4 separate regions of the Homo sapiens genome follow, and all the other regions are linked to region 1. The links come from fine-mapping of genetic effects on gene expression. A gene starts in region 1. Each other region holds a variant in brackets. All regions are shown on one strand. Distances are from middle to middle. Region 1 holds the start of BBS10 (Bardet-Biedl syndrome 10). Region 2 overlaps OSBPL8 (oxysterol binding protein like 8). Region 3 has its middle 32 kb from the start of LNCOG. Region 4 overlaps OSBPL8 (oxysterol binding protein like 8).

Evidence for each region. PIP is the estimated chance that this variant, and not a neighbour inherited with it, causes the effect.
Region 2: its variant is the best candidate, but not a certain one, in a credible set for the expression of BBS10 in whole blood (GTEx, PIP 0.87).
Region 3: its variant is the best candidate, but not a certain one, in a credible set for the expression of BBS10 in putamen (GTEx, PIP 0.70).
Region 4: its variant is the best candidate, but not a certain one, in a credible set for the expression of BBS10 in prefrontal cortex (BrainSeq, PIP 0.73).

The regions. Positions count from the first base shown.
Region 1 is chr12:76,345,202-76,353,538 of GRCh38, forward strand. BBS10 (Bardet-Biedl syndrome 10) reads right to left here and starts at 3,214. Exons shown (of 2, transcript NM_024685.4): 1 at 2,961-3,214; 2 at 1-2,586. The coding sequence starts at 3,157. The coding sequence ends at 612. OSBPL8 (oxysterol binding protein like 8) reads right to left here. Exons shown (of 24, transcript NM_020841.5): 24 at 6,596-8,337. RefSeq lists enhancers at 2,520-3,469, 3,470-4,419, 3,566-3,615.
Region 2 is chr12:76,526,708-76,535,053 of GRCh38, forward strand. The region is part of intron 1 of OSBPL8 (oxysterol binding protein like 8); the gene reads right to left. Among named protein-coding and RNA genes, the nearest start is that of OSBPL8, 29 kb to the right of the region's middle. RefSeq lists an enhancer at 4,289-5,017. The variant G/A (reference allele first, on the strand shown) is at 3,897.
Region 3 is chr12:76,223,776-76,232,121 of GRCh38, forward strand. No RefSeq gene overlaps it. Among named protein-coding and RNA genes, the nearest start is that of LNCOG, 32 kb to the right of the region's middle. The variant A/G (reference allele first, on the strand shown) is at 3,729.
Region 4 is chr12:76,496,064-76,504,409 of GRCh38, forward strand. All of the region lies in intron 1 of OSBPL8 (oxysterol binding protein like 8), which reads right to left. Among named protein-coding and RNA genes, the nearest start is that of OSBPL8, 60 kb to the right of the region's middle. The variant G/C (reference allele first, on the strand shown) is at 5,091.

The sequences.
Region 1 (8,337 bases):
CCAAGTTTTCCAAATGAAGTGGCAGTAAACCAATGACCACATAAAAGTAAAAATTAATTTTATGCTTTTTGAAAAAAAATTTGAGCCTTTTACTCACTGCTAATTTAATTTTATGCTTTTTGAAAAAAATAATTTGAGCCTTTTACTCAGCTTTACAAAGTATGAGTAGGGAAAATTAATGCAAATAATGTATTCAATATTAAAAACAATTAGAATAAGCCCACCCAAATCAGAGATTAAATGATTCTATGAACTAAACATGTAACGATGAAGGAGGGCTGGAGTGAAAAAGATACAGGAGAGTAAAAAGGAGCTATAAAGAAAAACCCTCCCCTAAACACATAGGCTAACACAGAGCTGAGACACAGAGGCATAAAATAGGGAAAAAACAGACACACTTAGCCAAATCTTGGCTTCCCCTCTAGATTTGTTCCATAAAGTAATTTAATATTTGTATCTGGTCTGGTGACCTTAGTGTGCTTCTTCTAAAGACTTTTAAAGTTACGCTATTTTCCTAAGTAGACTGAACTGACTTTAGAACCAGTGGTCACATGACTGCTTTACTTGGCTTGAGTTAGATGAAAAGTTTGGTTAATTAAAAACTTCTGATGTTATAGTTCATCTTCTGAATCTTGATTGTGAACTTTCTGAGGGTGTCTCTTAACAGTGATTACCATGTCAATGGTTAATATTTTTGTCAAACACTGAAGAACTGAAGTTAGTAGCTGGTATTTACCCATTACTGATTCCAAACCTGTCTGACTGCTTACCAAGGGTTGATTGGTTTGCAGTGCATGGACAGCTCTTATATATGTATGTGGAAAGCTGTACTTTCCTGTTTTAGATTTATAAAGGACTTTGGGAATGCCTAAAAGTGCATTAGCTATTATCATACTAACCATGGTTTCTTCTGATTGATGGCATTTTTTGGCATAATTGAGAAGATAGTAATGTAACAAGATCTCAAAATTACCACCTACTGGCAAAACACAACCAGCTGGCATAGATGAGGAAAGGTAACTCTGGGAAGTACCCATATTCGGTAACTTACAGCTCACTGGTAACATGCTTCCCTTTCTAGTAATATTTGTGACCTGTAAATTTTCGTAAGAAATTTCTATTCTATTTCCCCTTGTTGAATAAGCAGTGGAATTGTTCTTGAGTAATGGTTCATAATAATCAGTTAGCCTGTTTCTTTCCAAAGACAAACATGTCAGCGTTTCAACTGTTTGGAATGTATCTGTTGGTGTCAGTGTGGGGGTTGAATACGGAATATATGTTTCTAATTCTACATCTGGAATTACCAAATTAGAATGTACTTTTAAATATGTTTGAGTTTTTTCCAATGCATCTTTGTTCTCTGCAACTGTGTCCTGATAAGGCCTTTGTATTGAGCCATTACCAGGATCTGGTGCTTGATAACTTTCTCCACTGTTCTTATAAATAAAAAGACTTGAAGTGCCATTTTGGTCATTGGTTTGTGTCATGTAATTTAGATCAAGGTCTTTAAATAATTGCCGAAGCATTTTAAGTGCTCCATGTAAAGCATCCTCATGTTGTTCAATGAGACCATGCACTGGTCCACAAAGAACTATAGAGTGTGGTATAAATGCACATGTGCTTATCAAGCCTAGATGAACATATCTTTTGGATCTAAGGATAAGAGGTTTACAAAATTTCACCAAAGCAGTGTTAGGTATTTCACACTGCGAAAAGGCCTGTGGTGGTACAAATGGAGAAAGACCAATGATCCTCCGGATAAGAGAAACTTCTTCTGATGATAAACACTCAACCACTGATATGCCATTCACCCCTGCATAATAACTAACTAAATCTGGTTGTTTCACACTAGATATGAGCAATTTTACATTCTGACTATGTAGATGTTTCATTATTGCTTTTGTCTTTTCCATAATCCAAAATTGAGATGTCTGAAACTGTGCTTCTGAATTTAGAATAAACTCTGATCCAGAAGTGGAAAAAAGAGGCTGAATGGTTTCTGTTACTATCACCATTCGCATGTCACCATCTGCTGGGCGGTACACAGAAAAATCTTTCTGAAGCACAAGACCAGCTATGATCCTGGAATCTGAAACAGGAAGGCCAGTGACACCAACATTCAACTCTACAAAATGGTCATCCACTAACTCAAATACACCAATCCCACTTTTACAAGTCATACACTTGAAAAAGTAGTCACACATCAACTGTGAAATAAATTTATGATTATTTCTTCCCACTCTTCCACAAAAGTATGCTTCTAAGAGCAACTCTAAAGAGCTCCTACACAATGTTCTCTCTTTAGCAGACGAAAAGATAGACAAAAAGTGTCTACTTAGGTACTGGTCCATAATACCGTCTAATATTTGTGTCTGAAACGTTAGGAGAGCCTGGGAAATAAATTTCCACCGAGAACAATTTTTCCAATGCCTTCCATGGGTTTGAATGTTTTCACACATCAAAGGATCCTTTTCTCTGTCTGTGATTGCATGAAGTCCTCTAAGCAAATGGCAAAGAAAGATAATAAATGTTTTTGCACCATCTCCTGTTTTTTTGAGATGACTGGAAACACAGTCCACTATCATCCTGTACAAAAAAGAAATAAAGCAACTCATTTTCAGAAGGCTGGCTTCCCACATCTTAAAACCATGTTTACACAGCCATAAGCATAAAATGAGAATATTGTTCCTTGGATACATCCTTAGTTTTTTCCTTTCTTGGAAAAAACTCTGCTCTATTCCAAGATTCCACCGTTGGGTGGAGTGGGGAGAAGTGGTCTTGAGAATTGGTAAGATTTGGGGTGCAGGAGTGTTCCCTTGGGCAGGGCTCTAATTCCGAGCATACAGCGGTTTCACCCGAGGTCAGTCTTTCTAAGTACGCATCGCCTCAGGATGGGACAAGAGCTCCACAGAGGCTGCCTGGGGTGCCCGGCTACGGGTTAGCGTGTGGGACGCGGGTACCTGGCTATGGGATGCTCTAAGTGTAGCGCCTCCAGGAGGCGGCCTCCATTCCGGCTGAGAAGCACCTCGCCAGTGGGCTTCGTACACAAAACTTGCCGTCCCTCGGGCCCCACGCAGCAGCTCACGATGGCTTCCAGCACCTCGGCCACCTGCAACGCCGCCTTCACAGACCCTGCAGCGGCCATAGAACTTAACATATCTGGGCCGCTTCCCCTTTTTGACCAGCTTGCAGAACACCCGGGCCGACCGAAAACAGGGGTGGGAACGGCCGGAAACGGAATAGGCGGGGAGAAAACCCGGAAGCCAGGAGTCGAAGCCGGGGTAGCACGGCTTCTTGGTTGGGCGAGAGGGCTGCCCTTCTGTCCGCCTGGTGGAAAAGCCCTGCAGCTTTGCCAGGTGGGGTGAGCTGGCCCGTTGTACGCGAAGGCAGAAAAAACAGACTAGGATTTCCAGCAGCTGTGCCTGGAGCGGCAACCCTAAGCCCCTCCCCGGCTCCCTAGGTGAATTCATCTCCCTCCAGTGGCGTCCGCTGCCCCCAAATCCCTTAGTCTCCCGAGAAACTTTCTTCCTAAGTCAACACGGTAGTGGGGCCTGCGTGAAGGAGAGGGCACCCCGGTTGGAACTCTGCTGGCTTTCATCCCCTGCCAGAAGCTGCTTTTTCCGGGGCAAAACCTCTGCCTTGGATTCACGCATGTTCCTGTCCACATTCCCCACGAGTTGCTCTCCTTACCATAACGGAAATAATTTGTAGATGCAGGACAGGTGAGGAGAGCCTGGCCACAGCCATGAATTGCAGGCTTTATGTCTGCTGCAGAGGCTTTACCACATTTCCTAGACTCAGGTATCACAATAAAACTCTAGACACCACAAATATATTAAGCAGAAATGATGCGAAGTCTCTATTTTTTGAGATGGACTCCCGCTCTGTCGCCCAGGCTGGAGTGCAGTGGCGCAATCTCGGCTGACTGCAACCTCCGCCTCCCGGGCTCAAGCGATTCCCGTGCCTCAGCCTCTCAAGTAGCTGGGATTACAGGCATACGCCACTGTGCCCCGCCAATATTTGTATTTTTAGTAGAGATGGGGATGTCACCATGTTGACCAGGCTGGTCTCGAACTCATGACCTGAATGATCCACCTGCCACGGCCTTTCAGAGTGTTGGGATTACAGGCATGAGCCGCTGTGCAGATTTAAATCCATTAATCACGTCGGTGATCAACAGTATGCTTTAAAACACATGGCCAAGGATTATTGTATATAACCCAAAGACAGAAAATACTGTCTCTTATAACATTTTTTTTGTTTTTTAAGAGATGAAGTTTCACTCTGCCGCCCAGGCTGGAGTGCAGTGGCGAGATCATAGCTTACTGCAGCTCCGCATTCCTGAGCTCGTGATCCTCCTGTCTTAGCCTTCAAGTCGCTTTGTGCCTCACTACGCCTGGTTATTTTCTCTTTTAGTAGAGACAGGGTCTCCCTGTGTTGCCCAGGCTGATCTTGAATTCCTGGCCTCAAGTGATCCTCCCAACTTGGCCTTCCAAAGTTTTAGGATTACAGGCATGAGCCACCTTGCCTGGCCTAAAACACAGGCACTTGAGAGCATGGGCTTTGGATTCAGACCTGGATTTGCTCTGTCATTTCCTTACCTGTGGCATTCACCAAGTAACCTCTTTGATCTCTGCTTTTCTCATCTTTAAAAACAATGGGCCTGCCGCAGTGGCTCATGGCTGTAATTCCAGGACTTTGGGAGGCCGAGGTGGGAGATCACAGGAGGCCGAGAGTTCAAGACCAGCATGGCCAACATAGCAAAATCCCGTCTCTACTAAAAATACAAAAATTAGCTGGGCATGGTGGTGCATGCTTGTAATCCCAGCTACTCTGGAGGCTGAGGTATGAGAATAATTTGAACTCGGGAAGGGAGGTTGCAGTGAGCCAAGATTGCACCACTGCACTCCAGCCTGGGCGACAGAGCGAGACCTTGTCTCAAAACAAAACAATCCCCGCCAAAAAAACCAGTGGAGATAACATATACAAAATAAAAATCTCAAGAGGTTTTGAGTAGGTGGAGAATGTTCACTAAACACTTTGCATAGTGCCTGGCATAGTTAGCACTCAACAGATATTTATATTACACCTGTTAGAGGAAAAGGGTCCCAATCCAGACCCCAAGAGAGGGTTCTTGGATCTCATGCAAGAAAGAATTCAGGACGAGTCCATAAAGTGAAAGCAAGTTTATTAAGAAAGAGGAATAAAAGAATGGTTACTCCATAGGCAAAGCAGCCCCAAGGGCTGCTGGTTGCCGATTTTTATGGTTATTTCTTGATGATATGCTAAACAAGGAGTGGATTATTTATGCCTCCCCTCTTTAGGCCATATAGGGTAACTTCCTGACATTGCCATGGCATTTGTAAACTGTCTTTGGTGCTGGTGGGAGTATAGCAGTGAGGACAACCAGAGGTCACTCTCGTGGCCATCTTGGTTTTGGTGGGTTTTGGCTGGCTTCTTTACTGCAACCTGTTTTATCAGCAAGGTCTTTATGACCTGTATCTTGTGCCAACCTCCTATCTCATCCTGTGACTTAGAATGCCTTAATCATCTGGGAATGCAGCCTAGATCTTAGCCTCATTTTACCCAGCTCCTATTCAAGATGGAGTTGCTCTGGTTCAGATGCCTCTGACGCACCCACCAAATTACTGGAGTTGCTCTGGTTCAGATGCCTCTGACGCACCCACCAAATTACTGTGGTAGGTCACCACTCTCCTGGTTTATTATTCCCACAAGTGATATTTTGTGAGATGCAGAAGATTCAACTAGCATAATGGCACAACATACATCATCTAGAGTCGAAGCATGCCAGTATTAGCAAGAAAATGATCTTGTAGATGTTTCACGAGGTTGGACAATGAGGGGCCGTTTTCCTTAATCCTTATTGCTATGAACAAGATAGGAGGAACCGGCAGGCCCTCCCATCTTTTTCTCCCCAATTAATAAAACCAAACCAAATGACAGCCAGAAGCAACTGGACCCTGAGCAGAGAGCAAGAATGGGAAGAAAGGAGGGTGGGGGAAAACCAGAGAGGAATGATGTCTCGGAACTCATCTGATGTTGACTCAGTATGGACTAATAGGTGATCTGAGGGGGGAAAAAAAAACCCTTTCATATGGATTTCGTATATGTTTAATAGTAGGGTTTTTTTGTGGTGCTACTCATAACAAAGGGGTTACATTACTCAATATAGATTCAAGCAGTGGATTATATTCCTGACATTTAGAAGTGAAGTGCTATTAGAGTTCTATTTAAGTGTACCACGGAGATACAGATTCAAACTTGTGCTTTTACTCTTAAAGTAAGAGTCGGCTACCACTCTTACTCCGCAGCTTTTGGAGACTTTCAACCTCTCTGAGCCTCAGCATCTTCATGTATAAAATCTGGCTAACGTCCACCTAAGGTTCTCATAGAGGATTCGAGAAGAATGAATATAAGGCACCAAGCAAAGCATACTTCAGGGATTCTCACTGTTGAATCCCTTTCAAGCCCTTTGCCATCCTTTGCAGCTATCCCTATCCCCACAAAAGGGGGGATTAAAACAAATTAGCAATAATTTAGTCATCATATTGTATTAAAAGTCACTTGATCACCGTTTGCTCTTTTTAAAAATTTTATTTAGAAGCCTACTTGTAGAAGTTAGCATAATTTTACAGATTATTAGAAAAATTCTTTTCTTTCTGCAAACAGTTATAATAGGTTAGGAATAATAGATTAGAAATGTACTACATTACAAAACAGTGGCCTATAACTATCTGTACATTTACTGTGCACCTTAAGGAAAAGAATTTGACAGTGTGCTGTACTTACACTGCAGGTAACATATTTTTATTCTATCACACAAAACTGACCAGTGGTAGTGCTTGAATTTATGAATGGCCATTAAACAGAACATTTAAACTCAGATGTATATTTAGCATGCTAAAAAGTGAAAAAAATTTCAACTGAAGTTCTGTGGCTCATCAGTTCAAATGTTTCATGGCATTTTTTTTCTTTAAGTGAAAAATTTTGATACTGTAAAACAGTTTTACATAATAAATGCAAAAAGATAACATTTTCTAAATTTTTAGAAAGAATATTCACATTCATTTTGTCATGGGTTTCACGTGGCTCTTCTAAATATATTAATCATATTAATAAGACACTGGTCCTATACAATTTCAACAGTCCATCTTCAATTAAAAACTAACAAAAATAAACAGTATGTAAAGAGTAACAAAAAGTAAATTAAATATACTAAACTCACACAACAGGTAGAATAAAATGAAACCAAATTACATAATGGCAGGTTATACATTTTAAAGAATCTCTTTCCACTTAGTCAAATAAGATAGAAATTGAAATGTAAACTTACTGATTTCTGTGGGATTTTCCCCACTGGTTCAAATTGGAAAATTTGATATAAATCTAATATTTTATTTCTGTACATTTAATATGATTCAATATAATCTGCAGTCTCATGTATGGCTTATCAATAATGCCATCATCACTGTATGTCAAACAACCTCACTGCTTACTAGAAATGCTAAACACTGGAAAAAATGGAATTTTATACATTTGTTTTCTTAAATTTTGACAGATATTCTTCAGAAAGTTAAAACTGCCTTCCACAAAATTTTGTGTGTATATGGCACAAGGTGACAGCCAAAAAGTGTGATTCCATCGAAAAGGCACTGTTAACAATACTCAGAATAATCTGACAAGTCTACATCAATGTCTGAGTAAAGAATAGGTAAATAGACAAACCCCTATAAAAGATAGTATTATTGTTTAAATATACTATAGCTATATAAAAAGAAAGTAACACACAGAAATGACCCTTTTATGACAAGCCTATAAACACCTTGAATCACATTATAGTTCTGTAACACAAAAAATGACAAAAAATATTTTCTTAAAGGCACAAAAGCATGAATATTAAATGAGAGTTGTATTTTACAAGGCCAACTTTTCAATGGAATGCGGTTACCAACTGAGCTGTGACAAAGAGTACACTGTACCTTTATAAGTGATATAAAACAAAAAAGTACTAACATGAAATACAAATAAAATATCTATTGCTGTAACTTAACATTTCACATGCCCTATTTATTGTTGTTGTTTTTTTTTTTTTTTTACATGTCCTGGGCCAGCTACATTTTACTAAATGGTGGATGATGGCATAGTACATTTAACAGCTAAAAAGAAAATGCACATGTGAATAATTATTACTCAATTAAATTTTCATGTAGGAAAATAAAATCTTGGTAAATGAAAAAAACTGGTCATAAGGTCATAAATCCTAGAAACCCTCATGAGGCTCTCAGACAACTGGGAACCGTTTACGGTCCATGTGTG
Region 2 (8,346 bases), 180 kb after region 1:
TGGTGCGATCTCGGCTCACCACAACCTCCGCCTCCCGGGTTCCAGCAACTCTCCTGTCTCAGTCTCTCAAGTAGCTGGGATTACAGGCGTGCACCACCATGCCCAGCTAATTTTTGTATTTTTAGTAGAGACAGGGTTTCACCATGTTGGCCAGGCTGGTCTCGAACTCCTGACCTCAGGTGATCCACCGTCTCAGCCTCCCAAAATGCTGGGATTACAGGTGTGAGCCACCATGCCTGGCCAGTAAATCTCATTTTTAAGTCCAGAGCTCTATTGAGAACTAAGTGTGAACCACTTTACACCTCTGGACCTCAGTTTCCTCATAAGTAAAATTATGAGGCTAAAATGTCAATTACTGACACTCATTAAAATTCTAATATTCTACAATCTAACAGCCAGCAGTTTTACCTGCTGTCTATATATTGCTGACATAATCACTGCAATGCAAAAGAATGTAAGGTATACGGTACCACCTCAACTTTAAGGTCCATATTAGGACCTGTCTTTAGAGTAATAAATTAAGGAGGGTGGTGGGCCGGGGTGGGGGGGGATTGTGCAACATGAGGCAACTTACAATAACTACAACCAATCAATAAAGTACATTAATTACAGTTTTCTAAGGTTTTTCAACTTCAATTAAAACCCTTTGATCCTACCTAATCAGGAAAAAGTCAGCTCTTCAAAAGAAAAATCAGTTCAAGTAGGAAACCAAAACAATATGTTAAACATTTTATTACAACTGAAATATACATATATCTCCAATCTTTTGATGGAAAGCCTTATCATCGAGTATAAATCTGTCAATTAGAATTACATATCTTCCTTGTTTAAACCACAGCTATAATACATGGGTCTGAGAGCTCTACGGGTAGTTCTTTAAAGTGAAGCAAAATTTAAAACATTTGTAAAGCCATCAGTTTGGAGAATCCTACATGTTCCAATTACTTTCCTACCTTTTCTAGTTATCGAATTATCTTATCCATACCAAGACAGGCCCAGGGAAATGCCTACAAAAAACATTGAGTTGCAATACAGAAGAGTCCTGAGCTTAGGGAACCCAAATATTTTATAATGGACAGCAAGAATGCCTGCCTTTTCTTTTCCTAAGGAGGAAAATACTATCATTATCTTCCAAGGCTGCTCACTAGATAAACATTCTTGAAAAGGTAGTCTAGAGTAACAGGCAGTCAGTGCTTTACTTGCAAGATATGCAGAAATGCAAGAAATCAATAAAGAGTTGTCTTCCAACTGTCTGTTTATCCCTGTCTACTTAACTGCTACCAAATACAACCCCCTGTAGCATTTTACCTTCTAATATATAAGCATTATTGTTGGCCAGGCACGGTGGCTCACACCTGTAATCCCAGCACTTTGGGAAGCCGAGGTGGGCGGATCACGAGGTCAGGAGTTCAAGACCAGCCTGACCAACATGGTGAAACTCTGTTTCTACTAAAAATACAAAAATTAGCTGGGCATGGTGGCACATGCCTGTAATCTCAGCTACCTGGGATGCTGAGGCAGGAGAATTGCTTGAACTGGGACCTGGGAGGCGGAGGCTGCAGTGAGCCAAGATCATGCCACTGTACTCCAGGCTGGGCTACATGCAGAACGAGACTCCGTCTCAAAAAAAAAAAAAAAAAAAGTATTATTATTAATAACAGAAGATGAAATCATGATTCACGAGCCATTTCTAAGAAACTTCACTCTTGTAAATAAGAGTTAGTTTTGATTACCAGAATTTTTTCTATGTGCTTTTAGACAATTTGAACAATCCTTTTATATTTTATATATAAATCATGCCTTGTCGAGTCCAGTCTTAATAACCAAATGCCTCTGCAATGAAGTTAGTCATCACCCAAAAAGCTTCAGAAATTAAATGAATCAAGTGAGTACTATAGAAAGGGTACATCCTAAAATAAAAGATAGTTGTCACAAGCCAAAGAAGATAAGGAAGTGTAACAGAATCACACACACACACACACCCACACAACGATATAGCTATAGTATTAGCTATAGCTATAGCTACAGACAGCTACTAGGGAAGGCTGAGGTGGGACAATCACTTGAGCCCAGAAGGCAGAGGTTGCAGTGAGCTATAATGGCGCCACTACACTGCAGCCTGGACAACAGAGGGAGACCCTGTCTCAAAAAAATAAAAATAAAAATAAGTAAAGTATAGCAACTTTAAAATTTCATCAAATTTTTCACTTCTCCCAACCTCCTCTCAAGCTATAACACAATCTTATGCCAGAATTAACCAAGGATACCAAAGTCCAAAACAGGGGTAGTGTGGTCTACCTCTGAAAAAGCAGTATGAAGTTATTATGTCACTACTTCATTTCAATCTTAGTTTTGTTTTGTTTTTTTTTAACTATGACAAAGCTAAAATATCATTATGAATTTCAAATGTGAGAAACATTAAGGATTCTAAGCTGTTTCTTATACTAAGGGCTTCTGCTTAGGAACAACAATTATTTAAAGCATTATGAACTAACAATCAGAAACTGAACTAGGATATTAAGGTGCACACTATAAGGAAAATACAAGATAATGCTAAAACTTCAGAAAAATAAATTTAAGAAAACTGGAATCCTTGCTATTTTTCCCTTCTTGGGCACTTGTTACTATCCCCTTCCAAAAACAAATCAGTTGGTGAGTGGATTTGTAGAAACCTAATCAAAGCTTAGAAGGTATGTCAGATTACGAAACCCAGCTGAAACCTTTTGAGCCTCTAAACCATGAAGCAACTAACCATTTGTACTTGCCTTAGAATAGCAGTGTCATGCCAGCTCTGGATTACCTACCTGCTACTACCAAACAGAAAAAAAAAAAAAAAAATTCTTATTTAAGCCACTGTTCATTTGGCTTTCTATTAAAACAGTAGATCTGTATCTGAATACATCGTTGAAACCCTTTCTGTGAAAAACTGAAGAAGCTAGTGGGGGAAGAAGACTCGAGATAAGAATAGGCTCATTATTCAAAGGCCAGCATGGCTAAAGCATAGTAAGCAATGAGGAGAACTATCTGAGATAAGGCTCTAGAGACAGTAGAGTCTGGATTTTATTCACTGTGAAAGAGGAAACCAATGAAAAGCCTATGCAAGGCAGGAACATGATCCACTTTATACTCGAAGACACATTACTAGTTGCTTTAAATGCATTATTACATAATGTAGTCATCACATAAACCCTATAAAGCAAGTAATTTTTCACTATAGCCCCATTTTCAAAATGAAGACACTAAGGCTCAGAGTAGTGAAGTAACATGCTGATTGCTCATTCTGCACCATCCACAAAAGCCTCTATGATATGATATTCCTTTAACATGTCAAGCAGATTTCCACATTTTTTTTCTTTTCTTTTTAGACACAGGGTCTCATTCTGTTGCCCAGTCAGGAGTGTGGTGGCAAGATCATAGTTCACTATAATCTCAAACTATTGGAAACAAGGGATCCTCAGCCTTACTCAGCCTCCCAAGTAGTAAGAACTATAGGCACGTGCCACCGGGCCTGGCTTTTTTTTTTTTTTTTTTTTTGTAGAAAAGTCTCACTATGTTGCCAAGGCTGGTTTTGAACTCCTGGCCTCAAGCAATCCTCCCTCCTCAGCCATCCAAAGTCCTAGGATTACAGCTGTGAGCCACCACACCCAGCCACCACAAGGTTTTTGTATCTGCTGTTCTTTGCCTAAAACACTCTTCCTTATGGTTCACTCTCTCACTTCTTGCAGGTTTCTTTGTTTAAATGCCATTTTATCAAATAGATCTTCCCTGACCATCCTAGCTACAAATAGCAAAATAGCAACTTGCCTCCTCCCATTCTTTTATTCATCTTTTTACCAACTACTTTTTTTTCCAAGACACTTAACACCTGACACACACATTTGTTTATATCCCCACAT[G/A]TAAGTATAGTATATTATATCCCCAAATAGAAGCGCTCCATAAGCAGTTTGTTTTGTTCAGTGAGGTATTCCCAACACCTAGAAGAGTGCCTATCACAGGAGGTGCCTATCACAGTAGGTGCTCCTTAGACACTTAAGAATTGTGGACTGGCAGAGATAAGGAGCTAACTTTATCATCAAGCAAACAGACTCTTTATAGTATAATAAAGCAATAAAGGCATGAAGGCTTAATTCACTTCCCTGAAGACATAACTAACAAAGGAGTATTAGACTGAAGATCTTCCACTTCCAGAAACAACATAAGTTCTCATCAATGAACTACATAAATGAACCCAACTATAGACATAATAAATTGCCATCCCTATTATTTTTATTAAATGTTATAGTACCATTGTGTTAGTCCATTCTCACACTGCTATAAACAACTGCCCGAGACTGGGTGATTTATAAAAAGAGGTTTAACTGACTCACAGTTCCACATGGCTGAGAAGGCCTCAGGAAACTTACAATCATGGCAGAAGGCAAAGGGGAAGCAGGGACCTTCTTCACATGGTGGCAGGACAGAGAAGAGTGAGCAAGAGCAGGGAAAATTGCCTTATAAAACCACCAGAAGTGCTTTTTAAAGTCATTGTATCACCTTTTATCACTCACTTAGCATCATAAAACAAGCACAAAGAAAAACAAGTTGTGTTACTTAAGTGACACCATTCTCCTTTTCTTAGTTAGCTTCCAAGCAGATCAGCAATCTAAATTTGACTTTCAGTAATTCAATGGTAATAAAGTATTCCCTCCATCATTCAAGTTAGGTCCAACTCAGGTTATAAAAACTAGTCCCTTCAGACCAATTGCTTGTACATTTCTACAGGCACCTTTTTGGCAAACCCACATGGATTTTAAGAAATGGAGAATGAGGAGACAGGAAAATATTAATAAGATGTATCAAACTGTGACAATATGTGAAGAGTACTGTGTATATACAAACAGGAAACAATTGAAAGCCTTCAACATGTGTGGGTTGGGGGAGAGATAACTGAATTAACAGGCCATGTAGTAAAACTTAAAATCAAATCCAGTAGTCTTGAAGGTATAGTAATTGTTTAGTTTTGAAGGTATAGTAATTAAGTACTGCGCACTAAAAAAAACTGACCAAAAGGCCGGGTGCGGTGGCTCACGCCTGTAATCCCAGCACTTTGGGAAGCCGAGGCAGGCAGATCACGAGGTCAGGAGATCGAGACCATCCTGGCTAACACGGTGAAACCCCATCTCTACTAAATATACAAAAAATTAGCCAGGCATGGTGGTGGGCACCTGTAGTCCCAGCTACTCAGGCGGCTGAGGCAGGAGAATGGCGTGAACCCAGGAGGCGGAGCTTGCAGTGAGCCGAGATCGCGCCACTGCACTCCAGCCTGGGCAAGAGAGCAAGACTCCTTCTCAAAAAAAAAAAAAAAAAAAAACTGACCAAAAAATACACAGAAATTGACAAATCTGTTCCTTAAAATTTTTCTTTTCTAAACAAAAATTTTTGTTGTGGACTGTATCTGAGGCACTATATTCTCTAAGAAGAGAAAAAAAAACTGTACTCCTTCAGCTGAAATAACATTCTAATTTCTCTGATATTCACCCCCAATTAAACTAGGTGGTATCAGAAAATGAAAAGCACTTAATATATTTAAGAAAATACCATAGTGAAAAAAAATCACTATAAATTATCTATTTTAAGCAAAACTATTTGATGTTGCTCAAACAACATAGCAAAACTAGATCATTTCACTTTATTATTTGTTAAAAATCATCTCCCTTCGTCACACACTGAATCTATGAAGTAATTAATAATGAATACAATGAATGCTTATATGTATTAGGATCATGGCAAATCTATAAAGGCTGAAAGGCTTGGGTTCAGCCAATGAAGTTAATATTGTATTATAAGATTTCTAAAAATGTTATATCCACCTAGAAACTACGGCAGTATTGGATTTTTGTTTTAACCTGTCCGGACCCATTTCCCCTTCCTCTGTTAACATCCACCTTGATCTTCTTTTGGGAAAGGAACATCCCTCCTCCAACATATGCAATCTTGGTACTCCACGCTCTCCTAGCAAAAGGAGTGGACAAAAAAAAAAAGAGCCAGACCAATCAGTCCATGCCTGTCTCTCTCTCTCTGATAAATGTGAATCACAAGCAGAGTGATCACGTGAATGAAAAACAATCACAAAAAAAACTATCCTAATGGGGGCTCCACAAAGATTGTTGCTTTCTGCTCTCTAGATCCCTAAAGCTGTTCAAATGTCTACTATTTCTAAAACTCCATTTTTCATCTTGGAAGAAAATGAGCTTATCATCCTAGTAAATCATTTAAGTTACCCAAACCTTTCTATTACTTGAACCGAAAAACCCTAAATTGATATAGGTACTATTTAACACATTTGTAACCAAAATAGTCTACCTTTGAATAAGGAAATAAAATAAAAATTAACTTCAAAATATTTTTAAATGAATTTACAAAAGTAAAATCAATGTCAGACATAGAACATTTTAAAACACCATATATCCTATCATAAGAAAAAAATACAATAGCATAGTATTCATTTATGTGTTTCTTGCTAGGTTTTTAAACTCCATTACATAAGACCTATCCTATAACCATATGCAAGAACCAGGTTTTTTTTAAGACCAGGTTTTGATAATAATCATAAGGAGAAAAAAATGTTTACTCAGGAATGTAATCTCTTCTTCAATTTTCATTTGGATCCTACTACTCAAGGTGCCTTCTCTGGAGCTCCTGCTTCATTTCCTCTTACCCACTATCAAATGAAGGATTTGCGGTAAACTTCATGATTAGGACTAAGAAGAAAAACATTTCTAAAAATATCTATTTGAGCAGCTGACTGATGTTTCCATTTGTCTGACTGATCTTGCAATCCACTGAAGTCTTTATGAGGCAAACACAGGAGCAGACACAAACAAGTGATGACCAGCCCTCCAAAAGCACTTAACAACGATCAGTCTATATCAACAACTTAAAGGCGAGAAACTCAAGCGCTCAGAAATGAGATTATTAACCTCATCTCCACCTCATTACCTACCGGTTTTCCAAAATTCTAAGCTGTTATCAAGTGCAAAGCTTAGAAATGTCTTTCAAAGGACAAATGTGATTTCAGTAGGAAAAAAAATACATCTATATTCCTACTATAGCCTGGGACTTACTATTCATCAAAACAAGTTAATTCAAATGCATAACCAACATCTATAGTCATTTCCAGTAGGTGAGAAATGAGGCAAAATAAACAGAAGATAAAATCTCTATCTAGGAAAGCACACGATTTAATCGGAAAGACCAAAAATACACGTGAAATAAAACATTCATATATAATCAATATTATAATTGAATATGCTACATTTTACCTTTTCTCCTAATATTTTTACTGTAAACTAAAGTGGTTTAAGAAGGGGAAAATACCTGAGTGCTATTTTGAAACCAGGAACTGTATTCATTAATGAGATTTTTTAAATGTCCATTTATATGTAGTCAGAAACAAAATTAAATGCAATTTTTATCTAACATTTTTCTTCAATTCAACATGTTCCCAATTAACACACACTATAGTTTGGCAACTGCCATTACAGTACCTCAAATGTTCCTGCAAAAGACTGCTTCAGGCAAGGATAGGAATGTTTCTGTTAAAGAATGGGCGAAGAAGGAAAAGAAACACAATTTTAAATTGAAAAGTGTTACAATTTCATTTCCTGTCAAGTATCAGACGTGGTATTTAAACACAGGGCTTCTGGTACACACTTTTGTTGCTGCAACCCCAATTTACTGACCTTGTCAAAAATCATATACTATTGGAATCTAGAGTTGCTTACTACCAATAACGGGCTAAAGAAGAATACCAATTGCTGTCTAATTCCTTCCGACTAGCTGAAAGTACTTTGCTTCTTCCTTAATATATACAATATCTGCATTGGAAAATAACAAGCAGGAAGTCCCTGGTGGTGGCAACATCTTGGAAAGCAGAAACTCACAAAAAGAAACAAATGAAAAACAAAAATCAGCAACACATACACACAAGCAATGAGGTCAAGAGAGTAAACTATGCAAAGTTTTTTTACTATTTTCGAGATGATGTTGGTTTGGAAGATTTACACTACCTTCAAAACTTACAAAAACATTCAAAATAATGTGGTACTAGCATACCGCACATATATCAATGGAATAGAATAAGGAGTCTAGAAATGGACCCATAAACAGAGTCAATTAATTTTCAACAAAACTGCCAAGGAAACCCACTGGGAAAAAGAAAATACTTTCAGTAAAAACTGGATATTCATTAAAAACAACAAGAACAACCAAAACAGCCTGGCTTTTATACTAAACAAAAATTAACTCAAAATGAATCACAAATCTAAATACAAAAGCCAACATTATAAAACTTCTAGAATAAAAATG
Region 3 (8,346 bases), 120 kb before region 1:
CCCAAAGTTCATCTGTTTCATGTGTTTCCTGTGAAGAACATTCTTTTTATTTTTATTTTATTTTAGTTTTTGTTCATTTTGCTTTTTTGTTAGTCAATAATCTTAAATATGTGTAGAACACTATAATGGGCACCTGGGAAGATAAAAAATATATAGAAGACATAGTCTATAATGAGATTTTAAAAACCATTTACTTATCTGCATATCTTTTTATTCTTGAATAAACTTTTACAAGACAGATATAGCCCTATGATTATAACATTATAGTATGTTGGCACACACAAAAAATTGAGCTAACAGGAAATGATTGAGTTTTCACAAACATCAATGTTTTACTGTGCACACAAAGACACTGAGAAAGAAATATCTGGCCAAGAGAGAGGTGAGAAAAATCAGTGTTTAACATTGCAAAGGATTTGCAAATGTGCAAAAGTTTAAATTTTTGCAAATTAAAAACATGAGAACACAACCTGCTTAAAGTTTTCCTTACAAAAATTCCCTCATTTGAAATTCCCTTTCTTCATCTAAATTTTAGGCCAAAGGTAAAGTCATAATAGAAGACTATGGAAAGAAAAGCAGATACATATCATTTAGGAATAACAATATGGAGGGAAAAAAGTATAAAATGAAGCTTGAAGGTGGTTGGCATTTATTTTCCCTCATCTCTTAAAATGTTGAAGACATTGCATTCTATTTCAATATAATATATTTAGTGTATTAACATCTTCACCAATTACACTAAGCTATCTGACCTGACCTCTACTTAAGATAAATGCTTTTTTGGTGATTTCCTAATGTCATTACTATTATATACAACACAAAAAACAAATGTGGTAGTTATTCTTGATTGGATCCTAGATTTAAAAAACAGAACACAAAAAAAAAAACCTCAACAGGGCATTTTAAAGACAATGGAGAAGATTTGAACATTGGGTAGATATTAGATAATTTTATTATGTTAACGTAAAACTTCTTTGGTGTGATAATAGAATAGTGATTATAAAAAAGAATGTCCTTTCTCTTAGAAAACAATGGTGAAGTACTTGGAGATGGAGTCTCATGATGTCTGCAATACACTTTCAAGTGGCTCAGTTTTATTTATTTATTTACTTAGAGACAGGGTCTCGCTCTGTCACTCAGGCTGGAGTGCAGTGGCCCAACCATGGCTCACTGCAGCCTAGACCTCCCAAACTCAAGTGATCCTCCTGCCTCAGCCTCCTGAGTAGCTGGGACCACAGATGTGTGCCACCACACCCAGCTAATTTTTCAATTTTTTGTGGAGACAAGGTCTCACTATGTTGCCTAGGTTGGTCTCCAACTCCTAGGCTCAAGTGATCCTCCCACCTTGGGTCCCCACAGTGTTGAGATTATAGGCATGAGCCACTGCACCTGGCTAGGCTCAGCTTTAAAAAGAGGCACATTGCTGCACAGGCAGATAGGACGTAGATAGACAGATAGACAGACAGACAGAGAGAGAAAGCAAATGTGGCAAATGCTGACAATTATTGTATGCAATTAGCGTATCCAAGCCATCCTGTCCTAACTCTTGCCATGGTTGGGACACAAATGCAAATGAAGACTATTCAGCCACGTGCCTAAATACTTAAAGTTTTATAAGGCAAGTTAACAAAATAAAAAAAGATGTACTAACTGTTACTTTGACCGCATATCTTCATAATAACTTAGAAGCCAAGATCACATTTAAAATTTGCAAACTCCTATAAGATTTATGCTAGCACACAGCAATGCAAGGAGAGCCAGCCTCCAGTCATCTGGCCAGGAGCTGGGTTTCCCTTCTCCTCCTAGCCCTCGGTCCATCCTGCACATATGTGTGGACACCCCAGTTCATATGTTCAAACACCATCCATGCTACAGTTATCCACTCCCACTCCCACTCCCACAGTTGGTCCTTGGCCACCTTTTGGTCTAGGAGTGTGCATAGTGAATATGGTCTAACCTCAAGTAAGCAGACTCCAAAAAGATGAAAGTAGCAGGGATTCTGTACTCTAGGATATCTGAATCATGAAATAAAAATAATAAGGAGAGGTGGGAGATAGGCCCCAGATGGACATGCCCGTCAGCCAGAATATTCCCCAGCCCTTGGGGATGGGCAAGGCTGAGGACAAGCAAAGGAGATCTGTAAAGTGTGGGGCAGTACTGGATTTAGGTGAAGTGATATGGATTTTTGTTGAACGTATTCTTTCAATTTTTTTCCAGGTTTATTGAGGTATAATTGACAAATAAAAATTGTATATATTTAAGCATACAGTGTAATATTTTGATATATGTATATATTGTAAATGAGTACCACAATCAAGCTAATTACCTCACATTGTGTGTGTGTGTGTGTGTGTGTGTGTGTGTGTGTGTGGTGAGAACACTTAAGATCTACTCTTGAGGGCGTGGTGGCTCACGCCTGTAATTCTAGCACTTTGGGAGGCCAAGGCAGGTGGGTCCCTTGAGCCCAGGAGTTCCAAACCAGCTGGGCAACATGATGAAATCCTCTCTCTACAAAAATTAGCCACGTGGCATGTCTGTAGTCCTAGCTACTCAGGAGGCTGAGGTAGGAGGATCGCCTGAGCCGGGGTGGTCATAGCTGCAGCGAGCTGTGATGGCACCACTGCGCTATAGCCTGAGCGACAGAGCAGGACCCTGTCTAAAAAAAAAAGCATACAATGCAATATTATTTGCCATAGTCATCATGCTGTACATTAGAACTCCAGAACTTACTCATCTTAGAGCTGAAACTCTGTACTCTTTCACCAGCATCTCCCCATTTCCCCATCCCTCAGTGCCTGGCAACCACCATTCTGCTCTGCTTTTGTAAGTTTGATATTTTTAGATTCCATATATAAGTGAGATTACGCAGTATTTATTTTTCTTTCTGTGCCTGGTTTATTTCACTTAACGAAATGTCCTCCACATTCACCCATGTTGTCCTAAATGACAGGATTTCCTTCCTTTTTAAGGCTGACTCATATTTCATTGTATTATACACACACACACACACACACACACACACACACACACACACACACACATATATATATGCCACATTTTCTTCATTCATTCACAGATGGATGCTTAGCTTGATTTCAAATCTTGGTTATTGTAAATAATGCTGCAATAAACATAGAAGTGCAGATATCTCTTCAACACACTGATTTCATTTCCTTTGGATATGTACCCAGAAGTGAGATTGCTAGCTCATATGGTAATTCTATTTTAATTTTTTTGAGGAACTCCTGTACTATTTTCTATAATAGCTATACCAGTTTACATTTCCACTAACTGTATACAAGTATTCCCTTTTCTTCACATCCTTGCCAACACTTGTTATTTGATAATAGCCATTCTAACAGGTGTGAGGTAATATCTCATTGTGGTTTCGATTTGCATTCTCCTGATGATTAGTGATGATGAGCAGTTTTTCATATTCCCCTTGGCTATTTGTATGTCTTCTTTGGAGAAATCCCTATTCAGGTCTTTTGCCCATTTTTTAAACTAGTCATTTGTTTTCTTGCTTGTGGAGTTGTTTGAATGCCTTATATATTTTGGATATTAGCCCATTATCAGATATAGGGTTTGCAAATATTTTCTCCTATTTCATAGGTTATCTCTATTTTCTGTTGATTGCTTCCTTTGCTGTGCAGAAGCTTCTAAGTTTGATGCAATTTCATTTACCTAAAAATAGGTAAATTTACCTATTTTTGTTGTCTAGGATTTTG[A/G]GGTCATATCTGTATGGTTTTGTTCATATCATTGTCCAAACCAATATTCATATGCTTTTGTTCATATCATTGTCCAAACCAGTGTCAGCTTTCCACTCATGTTTTCTTCTAGTGGTTTTACCGTTTCAGGTCTTATGTTTAACTCTTTAATATATTTTGAGTTAATTTTTGCATGTGGTGTGAGATAAGTGTTCAATTTTATTTTTCTGCATGTAGATATTCAGTTTTCCCATGATCATTTATTGAAGAAGCTCTCTTTACCCCATTGTGTGTTCTTGGCACCTTCGTCAAAGATCAATTGACCACAAATATATGGATTTACTTCTGGGCTTTTTATTCTGTTTCATTGGTCTGGGTGTCTGTTTTTATTCCAGTACCATACTATTTTGATTGCTATAGCCTTGTAGTCTATTTTGAAATCAGGTGCTGTAATGTCTCTTGCTTCATTCTTCTTCCTCAAAATTCCTTTGACTATGAATTTTAGGATTGTTTTTTATATTTCTTTGGAAAATGCCATTAGAATTTTTATAGAGATTGGATTGAATCTGTATTATTTTAGGTAGAATGGATTTTTTAACAATATTAATTTTTCCAATCCATGATCATGGAATAGTCTTTCATTTATTTATGTCTTCTTCATTTTCATACATATTTTATAGTTTTCAGTGTACTGTCTTTCATTTTGGTTAAATTTATTTCTAAATGGTTTTGTTTGGTTGGTTGGATTTTGTCTTGAGACAGTCTTGTTCTGTCACCCAGGCTAGAGTGTAGTGGTGTGATCATAGCTCACTGCAGCCTTGAACTCCTAGCCTCAAGTAATCTTTTTGCCTCAGCCTTCCAATTAGCTGGGACTACAGGCAGGGTCTCTCTCTGTTGCCCAGGCTAGAGTGTAGTGGCACAAACATGGTTCGCTGCAGCCTGAACCTCCCAGGTTCAGGCAATCTTCCCTCCTCAGCTTCCTGAGTAGATGGGACTACAGGTGTGCACCACCATGCCCAGCAAATTTATTTTTATTTTTTGTAGAGATGAGGGTTTTACTATGTTGCCCAGGCTGGTCTTGAACTCCCAGACTCAAGCAATCCTCCCACTTCAGCCTTCCAAAGTGCTGGGATTATAGGCCTGGGGATTGTTTTCTTAATTTCTTTTTTGAATAGCTCTGGTTAGTGTACAGAAATGCAACTACTTTCTGTATGTTGATTTTGTATCCTGTAACTTTACTGATTTTGTTTATTCTAACAGGTTTTTTGATGGAGGAGTTTTCAGGGCTTTTTCTATATATATTATCAGGTTGTCAGCAAACAAAGACCATTTTGTTCTTTATTTCCAATTTGGATGTCTTTTTTTTTTTTTAATTGAATGGAAGTGCTGAAAGTGAACATCCTTGTCTTGTACCAGATCATAAAGAAAAGCTTCTAGATTTTTAACATTGGGTACAATATTAGTTGTGTGCTTGTCATATATGGTCTTTATTATGTTGAGGTATGTTCCTGCTACACCTAATTTGTTGATTTTTGTAATTTTTAAAAATTTTTATATAGAGACGGGGTTTCCCCATGTTGCCCAGGTTGGTCACGAACTCCCAGGCTCAAGTGATCCACCCACCTTGGCCTCCCAAAGTGCTAGGACTATAGGCGTGAGCCACCGCGCCCAGCCCCATAATTTGCTGAGATACTTTTATCACGAAAAGATGTTGAGTGCTCTCCAGTGGTTCTTCTCTATTGAGATGATAATAGGATTTTTATGCTTCATTCTGTTAACGTGGTATATCACATTTATTGATTTGTATCTTTGCATCCCAGGGATAAATCCCACTTGATTATGGTGTATGATGCTTTTTAATGTGCTGTTGAATTTGGTTTGCTAGTATTTTGTTGAGACTGTTCATCAGGGTTATTGATGTGTAATTTTCTTTTCTTGTATCTTTTTCTAGCTTTGGTATCAGGGTAATTCTGGCCTCATAACTTGACTGAAGTAATTCCTCATTTTCAATTTTTTGGAAAAGTTTGATAAAGAGTGGTGGTAACTGTTCTTTAAATGCTTGGTAGGGCCAGGCATAGTGGCTCGCACCTATAATTTCAGCTCTTTGGGAGGCCAAGGCAGGAGGATGGCTTGAGGCCAGGAGTTTCAACCCAGCCTGGGCAACATAGTAAGACCCTGTCTCTATAAAAATACATATATATATCTACTTTAAATTAATTAATTAATTAATTTTATTTATTTATTTATTTTTGAGATGGAGTCATGCTCTGTTGCCCAGGCTGGAGTGCAGTGATGGGATCTCGGCTCACTGCAAGCTCCACCTCCCTGGTTCAGGCCATTCTCCTGCCTCAGCCTCCTGAGTAGCTGGGACTACAGGTGCCCACCACCATGCCCGGCTAATTTTGTTTTATTTTTTTATTTTTAGTAGAGACGGGTTTTCACTGTGTTAGCCAGGATGGTTTCGATCTCTTGACCTCGTGATCTGCCCGCCTCGGCCTCCCAAAGTGCTGGGATTACAGGCGTGAGCCACTGTGCCCAGCCAAAAAATTAAGAAAATTGTTAAATACTTGATAGAATTAATCAGTGAAGCTATCAGGACCTGAGATTTTCTTTGTTGTGAGGGTTTTTGATTACTGATTCAATCTCGTTACTCGTTACTGGTCTGTTCAGATTTTTACTTTTTCATGATTTAGTCTTGGTAGGTTGTATGTTTCTAGGAATTTATTCAGTTCTCCTAGGTTATCCAATTTGTTCAAATATAATTGTTCAGAGTAGTTGCTTATGATCCTTTGTTTTTCAGGGGTATCAGTTGCAATGTTTTCTTTTATTTTTAATTTATTTGAGTCTTCTCTCTTTTTAATTAGTCTAGTGAAAGGTTTATTTATTTTATCTTCAAAGAAAACCAACTCTTAGTTATGTTTATCTTTTCTATTGTTTTCTAGTTTCTCATTTATTTCTGCTCTAATCTTTATTATTTCCTCCTTTCTGCTAACTTTGGTCTTAGTTTGTTCTTTTTTTAGTTTCTCTTGAGGTGTAAAGTTAGGTTGCTAATCTTAATGTAAGCATTAATTGTTATAAACTTCCTTCTTCAAAATACTTCTGTTGCATTCTTGGTATACAACTTTTGGTATGTTTTGTTTCTTTCATTTTTGTTTGCCTCAAGATTTGTTTGTTGTTGTTGTTGTTATTGTTTTGCTGTTGTTGTTGTTTGAGACAGGATCTCACTCTATCCCCCAGGCTGGAGATTAGTGCAGCCTTGACCTCCTAGGCTCAAGTGATCCTCCCACCTCAGCTTCCCTAGTAGCTGGAACTATAGGTGCACACCCCACAACACCCAGCTCATTTTTTTTCTTATTTTTTGTAGAGATGGAGTCTCAGTATGTTGCCAGGCTGGTCTGGAACTCCTGGGCTCGAGTGATCCTTCCACCTTGACCTCCCAAAGTGCTGGGATTACAGGAGTGAGCCATCGAGCCTGGCCTCAAGATAAATATTTTAATTTCTTCTTTTACTCACTGGATGTTCAAGAGTGTGTAGTTTAATTTCCATATATTTGTAAATTTTCAAATTTTCCTCCTGTTACTGATTTCTGGTTTTATACCATTGTGGTCAGAAATGATACTTAATATGATTTCAATCTTCTTAAAATTTGTTAAGATTTGTTTTGTGGCCTAACATATGATCTATCTTGGAGGATATTTCATTGTGCTTCAAAAGAATGTATATTCTGCTGCTGTTGGGTAGAACATTCTGTATATGTCTTTTAGGTCCATTTCGTCTACGTTGTTGTTCAAGTCTGCTGTTTCTTTACTGAGTTTCAGTCTGGATGATCTACCCATTGTTAAAAGTGGGGTATTAAAGTCCTCTACTATTATTGTATTTCTGTCTATTTCTCCCCTCCATTCTGTTAATATTTGCTTTCTATATTTAGGTGCTCCAATATTGAGTGTATACACCTTTATAATTATTTTATCTTCTTGATGAATTGACCACTTTATCATCGTATCATAACCGTCTTTCTCTGTTGTAATAGTTCTTGACTTAAAATCTATTTTGTTTAATATAAGCATAACAACCCTGCTATCTTTTGGTTACCATTTACATAGAATACCTTTTTCCATCCTTTCACTTTCACCCTATGTGTGTCCTTAAAGTTAAAGTGAGTCTGTTGTAGGCGTTATATCATTGAGTCTTGGTTTTTTATGTATTCATCCACCCTCTCTATCTTTTGCTTGAAGAATTTACTCCATTTACATTTAAAATAATTATTGATAGGTAAGGGCCTACTACCACTTTGTTAATTGATTTCTGCTATTTTGTTAATTGTTTTATAGTTCCTTTGCTCCTTTCTTCCTCTTGTGCTGTCTTCCTTTGTGATTTTTTTGAGTTTTTGCTGGAGTCCTTGGCTGGACTGGCCTGGTGCTTGGAGCTTGAGTCCTCTGAAGCGGGACTGGAGCTTGAATCCATGTGGTTGATCAGTGTGGAGCTTGGCACTACTGGTGCTAGTCTGGTGCCTAAGGCCTTGGGATCAGCATGGAGCCTGGGGCCATGGGGGCTGGCCTGGCACTGGGGCAGCTTGAAACCTGGGTATGCAGGGGCAGGCCTGAAGCCTGGGTTTGAGGGCCCAAGCATGGAATCTGGG
Region 4 (8,346 bases), 150 kb after region 1:
TTTATTCCTTAGCCCATCCACTGACTTTTAACTTTCGTCTTTTTTTAACGACACATTCTTATTCCCCAATTACACATTAGTCTCTTCTTGTTTCATGTCTGTAGTATTTTTTTTTTTGAATCTTTCTAACTACACAGGAATTTAAGTGCTCTGCTGTTTGGTGTTCTTCCGTCCAGGGAATCCTCTCTGTTTCCTCTGAAGTCATTTGTTACTTCTTCTTGACCCTTCCCCTTCTGTGCTGTTGGTTTTCCTCAAGTATCTGGTGATCCTGAGTTGTCTAACATGTTGATGAATAAATGCTGTGTAATTTTTTTTTTTTTTTTGACAGTGTCTTGGTTATGCTGTTGCCCAGGCTAGAGTGCAGTGGCACAATCACAGCTCACTACAACCTCAACCACCTGGGTGCAAGCAATCTTCTCACCCCAGCCTCCTGAATAGCTGAGACCACAGCAGGCATGCACCACCAGACCTGGCTAATACATTTTTTTTTTTTTGAGACAGAGTTTCGCTCTTGTTGCCCAGGCTGGAGTGCAATGGCAGGATCTCAGCTCACTGCAACCTCCGCTTTCCAGGTTCAAGTGATTCTCCTGCCTCAGCCTCCCAAGTAGCTGGGATTACAGGAACCTGCCACCACGCCCAGCTAATATTTTGTATTTTTAGTAGAGATGGGGTTTCACCATGTTGGCCAGGCTGGCCTCGAACTCCTGACCTCAGGTGATCCACCCGCCTCAACCTCCCAAAGTATTAGGATTACAGGTGTGAGCCACCGTGCGTGGCCTTGGCTAATATTTTTAACTTGTGTAGAGATGTGGTGTCACTCTGTTGCTCAGGCTGGTCTTGAACTCCTGGCCTCAATCCTCTCACTTCAGCCTCCCAAAGTGCTGGGATTACAGACATGAGCCACCACGCCTGGCCCCATCCTTCATTTTTAACAGACAGTATGAATACTGAGGCTTTAATACCCTTAAGTGTTTGTACCTGATAAAAGAGACTCGGTTATGTACATTTCAGTGATGTGTTCCCACATTCCACAATACATGAACTAAGTAAGGAAATATTTTTATCAAAATTTTTTTAACTAAAGGGAGATAGATATTGCAGTGTATCTGTATAGCTTAGGAATCAGCAAATTTTTTTTTTTTTTTTGTAAAGGGCCACACAGCAAACAGATTTTACTTTCGACTTTGCAGATGATAGGATTTCTATTGCAACTACTTAGTTCTGATGTTGTAGCATGAAAGCAACCATAGAAAAATGAATAAACAAAATGAGTCTGATAAACTGTATTTACAAAAATAGGAGTAGAGCATACTTTGGTGATTCCTGGTGTAGTGTTTCAGGTTAACATCGCGTGTAAATAGCACAATTGTATGCATAATAAAGGAATCTTTCCTGGTGACCCCAAATCTTGCCCTCACAGTTTTTCTCCTTTGTTTAGCTCCACTTAGACCTACACCTAAACCCTAAAAGTAGCTTCTTTGCTCAGCATGTGTCTCACTACTAACTTTATCACTTTCTGAAGCAGTATGTTCCCTGTATGTTTTAATATTAGCTTCTTCTGAATTCTTCTCTACGTGGTTTTTATACTTCTGTCCAAACAACTTTTTTCTGAGTTTTGGTGCCCTTAAAGCCTAGGCAGCTTATGTAAGGGCTTAAGTGCATAAGGTCCTTTTTTACTGTACCTTTGTAACATGAGGCAAAAGAAGTATAGCTAAGACAGGAGTTTCTTTTGATTCTCTAATAACAGAAGAGACTCTTATATAACACTTCTCTCCATAACTTGTACAAGCAGTAGTGTGTTAGGATTGGGCATTTTTATATCAAAAATATTAACTAAGGAACACATGAATTTATATAGATTGTTTTTGTTGAACACTTTCAACACTTTTCAACACAAAGCAACTGTTTTTGTGTGAACATTTTCCTTATCATTCCATTTTAAGGATATGGATGCATTTTCAGTGACTAGCATGTGATAAATGCCCAATAAATGTTTGTTAGTCAATGAATGGCATATAGATATTTCTCAGGCAAATGATTTTTTAAAAATCAGTATTTGGGCTGGGCACAGTGGCTCACACCTGTAACCCTAGCACTTTGGGAGGCCCAGGCGGGCGGATCACCTGAGGTCATAAGTTCGAGACCAGCCTGGCCAACATGGCGAAACCCTGTCTACGTATATAAAGAAGAGGTCACACAATGTCAGGAAACTGGCTCTGATTCCTGATTCTGGTCCTTTTTCTAGCCAATATTTTAAAAAATCAAAAACTGTACATAACAGTATTAATTTAGGGTTTGTCTTGAAACTATGGATGCAACACTTAAGCAATGACTGATTAGAGCTGAGTAGCAGCCATCCACTTTACAAGGTGCAAGCACGCACCTCTCACACCATGTTTGCATCTGTACTTTCACTGTTTCACTCATTTTTGCTACCTGTCCAGGTTGTGTAAGTATTTGAGTCCTGACAACTGATTTAAAGTATCTATACAAGAATCCTTTTTAAAACAAAGAAATGTTCAAATGCTTTGAACGCAGACATTTTATAAGCTCTCATTTGAATTTCTTCTCTATCAGGTACCATCCTTTCTGTGACTAAGTTTTCTATCTATGCTTTTGAGCTAATCCCTCTGGCACTTAGTGGTAATAAAAGCCTCCCCACTTTTTTTTTTTTTTTTTTTTTTGAGACAGGGTCACCCAGAATGGAGTGCAGTGGTGCCATCACATCTCCCTGCAGCCTTGACCTCCCAGGCTCAGGTGATCATCTCACCTCAACCTCCAGACTAGCTGGGACTACAGGCACACACCACCATGCCCAGCTACGTTTATTGTTTTTTGTCTTTTATAAAGATGAAGTTTCACCATTGGGATGGTTAACACTGAGTGTCAACTTGATTGGATTGAAGGATGCAAAGTACTGATCCTGGGTGTTTCTGTGAGGGTGTTGCCAAAGGAGATTAACATTTCAGTCAGTGGACTGGGAAAGGCAGACCCACCCTTAATCTGGTGGGCATAATCTAATCATCCACCATCGAATATAAGGCAGGCAGGAAAACGTGAAAGGGGAGACTGGCCTAGCCTCCCAACCTACGTCTTTCTCCAGTGCTGGATGCTTCCTGCCCTCAAACATTGGACTCCCAAGTTCTTCAGTTTTGAGACTCAGGCTGGCTATCCTTGCTCCTCAGCCTGCAGACAGCCTGTTGTGGGACCTTGTGATCATGTAAGTTAATACTTAATAAACTCTATCTATCTATCTATCTATCTATCTATCTATCTATCTATCTATCATCTATCTATCTATCTAATCTATCTAATCTATCTATATCCTATTAGTTCTGTCCCTCTAGAGAACCCTAATACAGCCATGTTGCCCAGGCTGGTCTTGAATCCCTAGGCTCAAGCGATCAAGCGATCCTTCCACCTCGACCTCCCAAAGAGCTGGGATTACAGGCATGAACCAAAGTGCCCAGCCCAGTAAAAGCCTTTACTTCAATATCAATTTGTCAGCCAGGTACAGTAGCTCATGCCTGTAATCCCAGCACTTCAGGAGGCTGAGGTGGGCAGATCACCAGAGGTCAGGAGTTTGAGACCAGCCTGGCCAAAATGTTGAAACCTCGTCTCTACTAAAAATACAAAAATTAGCCGGGCATGGTGGCTAATCCCTGCTGTAATCCCAGCTACTCGGGAGGCTGAAGTAGGAGAATCACTTGGACCCGGGAGCGGAGGTTGCAGCAGGCAGAAATCACACCACTGCACTCCAGCCTGGGTGGCAAAGCGAGACTCCATCTCAAAAAAAAAAAAATTTGTCCTGTTAGTCCTTCCATTGCCCATAATGCTCAAGTTTCCCTTACTCTCAATAAGGCCCTTTTCTGTTCTAGTTGCCTCAAAGCTACCCTCCAATGATCCTTTACCTGCCCTGGAAGATTTCTTAAGAGTGTTCAAGCATTCATTTCCTCTATCTTTGCCCCTGCCTTCACGCCTACATATTATATCAGTTTTATACCTAGTTTTATAATCTAATGCACAGAAGTGATCATGTCGACTTAATATCAAAAACTTCAGCTGTGCTTATTAAAGATTTAAGTCCAAATCTTGCCTTGGCATTGGAGGGTAACAATTATTTTGCTTATACTTGCCTTTCTCAGTTATTGCTTGCTTTCTCTGACCCTTTGTGTCAGCCAAATTGAGTTATTTGCTATTCTGCATATACACCAGTGCCTTCATAGATCCTATTCTTATGACTTCATATTTCCATGCCTTTGCCTGCATTCTTCCTTCTAGAAAATATTTCTCTTGCAAAACCAAACCCAACCCACCCAGTGAAGTCCAAGTCATATATTACCTTCTTCACGAAGGCTTCCTTGATTTCCCCTAACTAGAAGTATTCTCTTGATTCTTGAACTTCCAAAGTTCATATATCACTTAATACTATTTAAGTTTTTAAAATTTGTTTATATAAATTTGTTAAAATTGCATATGTTCCTATCTTCCCTATAAGATTATATTTTTAACAATAATGGATTACAACATATTCATTTTATACTTTCCCCAATACTTTTATAGTTTCTTGCCCTGAATGAGTGGAGCCCATCAGTTTTAAAGTACAAATCTTCCTTCAAGGACTACATGCTGAAGAATTTAAAGATTTTCCTTCTTTTTTCTTTTTTTTCTTTTTTCTTATGACCAGGGTAAGAGAAAAAAAGAATTTCTTAAAAGTATAGATGTTAGAAACAAGCCTCTGCTTTTACAGGTGATCATAAAAACTGATTACCCAGGGGCCACATATATGTTTGGAACCATGTTTTACTCAGTCCTCACAAAGTCTGGCAAAGTCATTCTGCTAACGTTTGAATTTACTGACATATAAGCAGTTCAGTTACTACTGTGTACTTAACCACTTCAAAAATGCCCTTTTATCTGCCAGGTCCTAGTAGGCATCTGAGTTTGTGCCAGTAACTTTGGTTAATAAACTTATAAAATATTAGGTGATTTGTAATTATTTATTGAGTAATTGTATGTGTGTGTATCTTTACACACACACACACACACATAGACACATATACATAAGTGTGTGTTTTTATAATACCTTT[G/C]GGTGCTTTATTCATGTTTTCTTAGATTTAAATCCCAATTTATAATTAAAATAAATGCAGTGCCTTCCTCAACCCTCATTATCTGGAAATGTGGATTCCTTCCCAATACAATTTTCACTTAAATGAATCTTGCATTTTTTAACATGTAAGCTGGGGGTCAGCAAACTATAGCACACAATGTAAGAATGGTTTTTATGTTTTTAAAGGGCTATAAAGAAGAAGGAAAATAGAAGGGAGAGGGGAGAGAAGAAAAGGAGAATATGTAACAGAGACAATATGTAGTCCACAAAGCCTGAAATATTTACTATCTGGGCCTTTATAGTGAAGATATTTGTGTCCCATGTGAATGCTCACCAACAGGTGATCTTAGCAGAGAGGTATTTTAATGATCAAGGAAATAGGAGAGCCCATTCTGTGATACTAGTCAGCCTCTTTCTCCAGCCACTGCTGTCATTCCACAGTGGGCTCATGAACAAAGTAGCCATGGTGACAGGGATGGAGGTTATGCATGGCTCAGCAACATGGACTTCCACTCACCAAAGCTGACCTGGCTAGAGCCACCGCTGAGTGCCCAACTGACCAGCGGTAGAGATCAACACCAAGTCCTCAATACAGCATCACTGTGGAGGGTCATTAGCTAGTTGCCCAGTGGCAGGTAGATTACGTTGAGCTGCTTCCATCACGAAGGGGCAGCATTTTGTTCCTACTTGAATAAATTTCTCTTCCCTCCATGCAATGCTTCTGCCTGAACTAACATCCATAGACTTAGAGTGCCTCATCTACCATAATAGTAATACATACAGCATTGCTTTGGAAGAAGAAACTCATTTCACAGCAAATGTAGTACAGCAATGAATCCATGCTCAGGGAATCCACTGGCCTTACCATGTTCCCCAACATCATGAAGTAACTGGTTTGACAGAACAGTGGGGTGGCATTTTGAAAACTCAATTGTAGCATCAGCTATGGAGCAATTCATACATGGATCGCCAGAAGGCTGTATATGCTCTGGGTCAATATGCAACATACAGTGCATTTTCTCCTATAGCCAAGGTGCATGGCTCTGAGAATGAGAGGGAGGAATGGAAGTGACATCATCCACTATTACCCCTATTGATCCACTAATACAATTTTTGCATCCTGTCCCCATAACCCTACGCTTTGCCAGTCTGGAGGTCTTAATCCAAAGAGAGGAATGCCTTCACCAGGAGACACAGCAATGATTCCACTGAACTCGAAGTTAAGACTGCCATTTGGCCACTTGAAGGTCCCCATGCCTCTGAATCAGCAGGCAAAGAAGGGGGTTTACTAGGCTGGCTGAGGTGAGCGATCCTAATTACCATGGAGAAACTGGACTGCTACTCTACAATAGAGGTATGGGAAAGTATGTCTGAAATACAGGAGCTATTTCAGATACGATGGGATATTTCAGATACGATGGGATAATATGATGGGATATCTTTTAGTACTGCATGTTCGGTGATTAAAGTCAACAGAAAATCACAACAATCCAATCTAGACAGGACTAGTAATCGCCTAGACTCTTCAGGAATGAAACTTTGGGTCATCCTACCAGGTCAAAAGCCATGACCAGTTGAGGTACTTGCTGAGGGTAAATGAATACAGAAGGGATAGTGGAAGAAGGTAGTTATAAATACCTGCTACAATTACGTGATCAGTTACAGAGACAAAAATTGTAATTTCTGGGATTATTACTTCCTTATTGTTTTATGAATACAGTTGTGTATCAAATATCTTTGTTTTCTTTCCTCTCTTATTGCTTTATCATATAAGATATAATGACTTTATTTCATAGCATTTAAGTATTGTTAACTCTACATTACAGTATTTCAGTTACAGAATAACAAGAAAAATGAACATCACCCAAGGACTTTACATTCTCTTTGGGGAAAAAGTACATTTTACGCAAGACAGTTGTACCGTTGGGTGGAAGCATGACTTTGTTATTGTCTTTGTTTGGAGATTAACTATTGTATTAATTTTCTAGCGTTGCCATAATAAAATACGACAAACTGGGGGTAGCTTAAACAACAGAACATTATTTCCTCATAGGTCTGGAGGCTAGATGTCCAAGATCAAGGTTTCAGCAGGTTTAGTTTCTTCAGAGACCTTTCTCCTTAGCTTGAGATGGCCATTTTCTCCCAGAGATTTCACATGGTCTTCCCTCTGTACGTGTCTGTATCCAAATTTCCTCTTCTTATAAGGAGACCTGTCATACTGAATTCGGGTCCACCCTAGTGACCTCATTTTAACTTAACTATCTCATTAAAGACCCTGTCTCCAAATACTGTCACATTCTGAGGTGCTGGAAGTTCAAACTTCAATATGCATTTTAATGGGATACAATTCAGCTTATAACAAGTATGTTTTTTTTTATTTTTGAGACGGAGTCTCGCTTCTGCCACCCAGGCTGGAGTGCAGTGGCGCGATCTCGGCTCACTGCAAGCTCCGCCTCCTGGGTTCACGCCATCCTCCTGCCTCAGCCTCCCGAGTAGCTGGGACTACAGGTGCCCGCCACCATGCCCGGCTAATTTTTTTTTTTGTATTTTTAGTAGAGACTGGGTTTCACCGTGCTAGCTAGGATGGTTTCGATCTCCTGACCTCGTGATCCACCTGCCTCGGCCTCCCAAACTGCTGGGATTACAGGCATAAGCCACCGCGCCTGGCCTATAACAAGTATGTTTTTAAAGAGATATGGTGGGTGCCAATGTAACAAGGCATAGACTATAATGGTTCATTTTATGTGTCAATTTGGCTAAGCTATGAGACTCAGTTGTTTGGTTAAACATCAGTATAGATGTTGCTGTGAAGACTTTTTTTTTTAGATGTGTTTAACATTTAGATCAGTAGACTTTGAGTAAAGCAGGTTACCCTCAATATGTGGGTGGATCTCATCCAACCACTTAAAGGCCAAAAAAAAAAAAAAAACCTGAGGTCCTAAAAAGAAATTCTGCCTCCAGACTGCCTTCAGACTCAAGACTGCAACATCAGCAATTTGGTGGGTTTCCAGCCTGTTGACCTACCCTGCAAATTTCATACTTGCTAGTCCCCATTTTGTGTGTGTATGTGTGTGTGTCCCCACATACTGTTGGTACTGTTTTTCTAGAGTACCCTGACTAATCCAATATATATGTATATATTCATATCTTATCAATATAGGTATAAATAAATTTATTTTATCATTCATTCTGTGCTCTCCTCTGTATCATAGAAGCTAAAAGCACGGAAACTACAT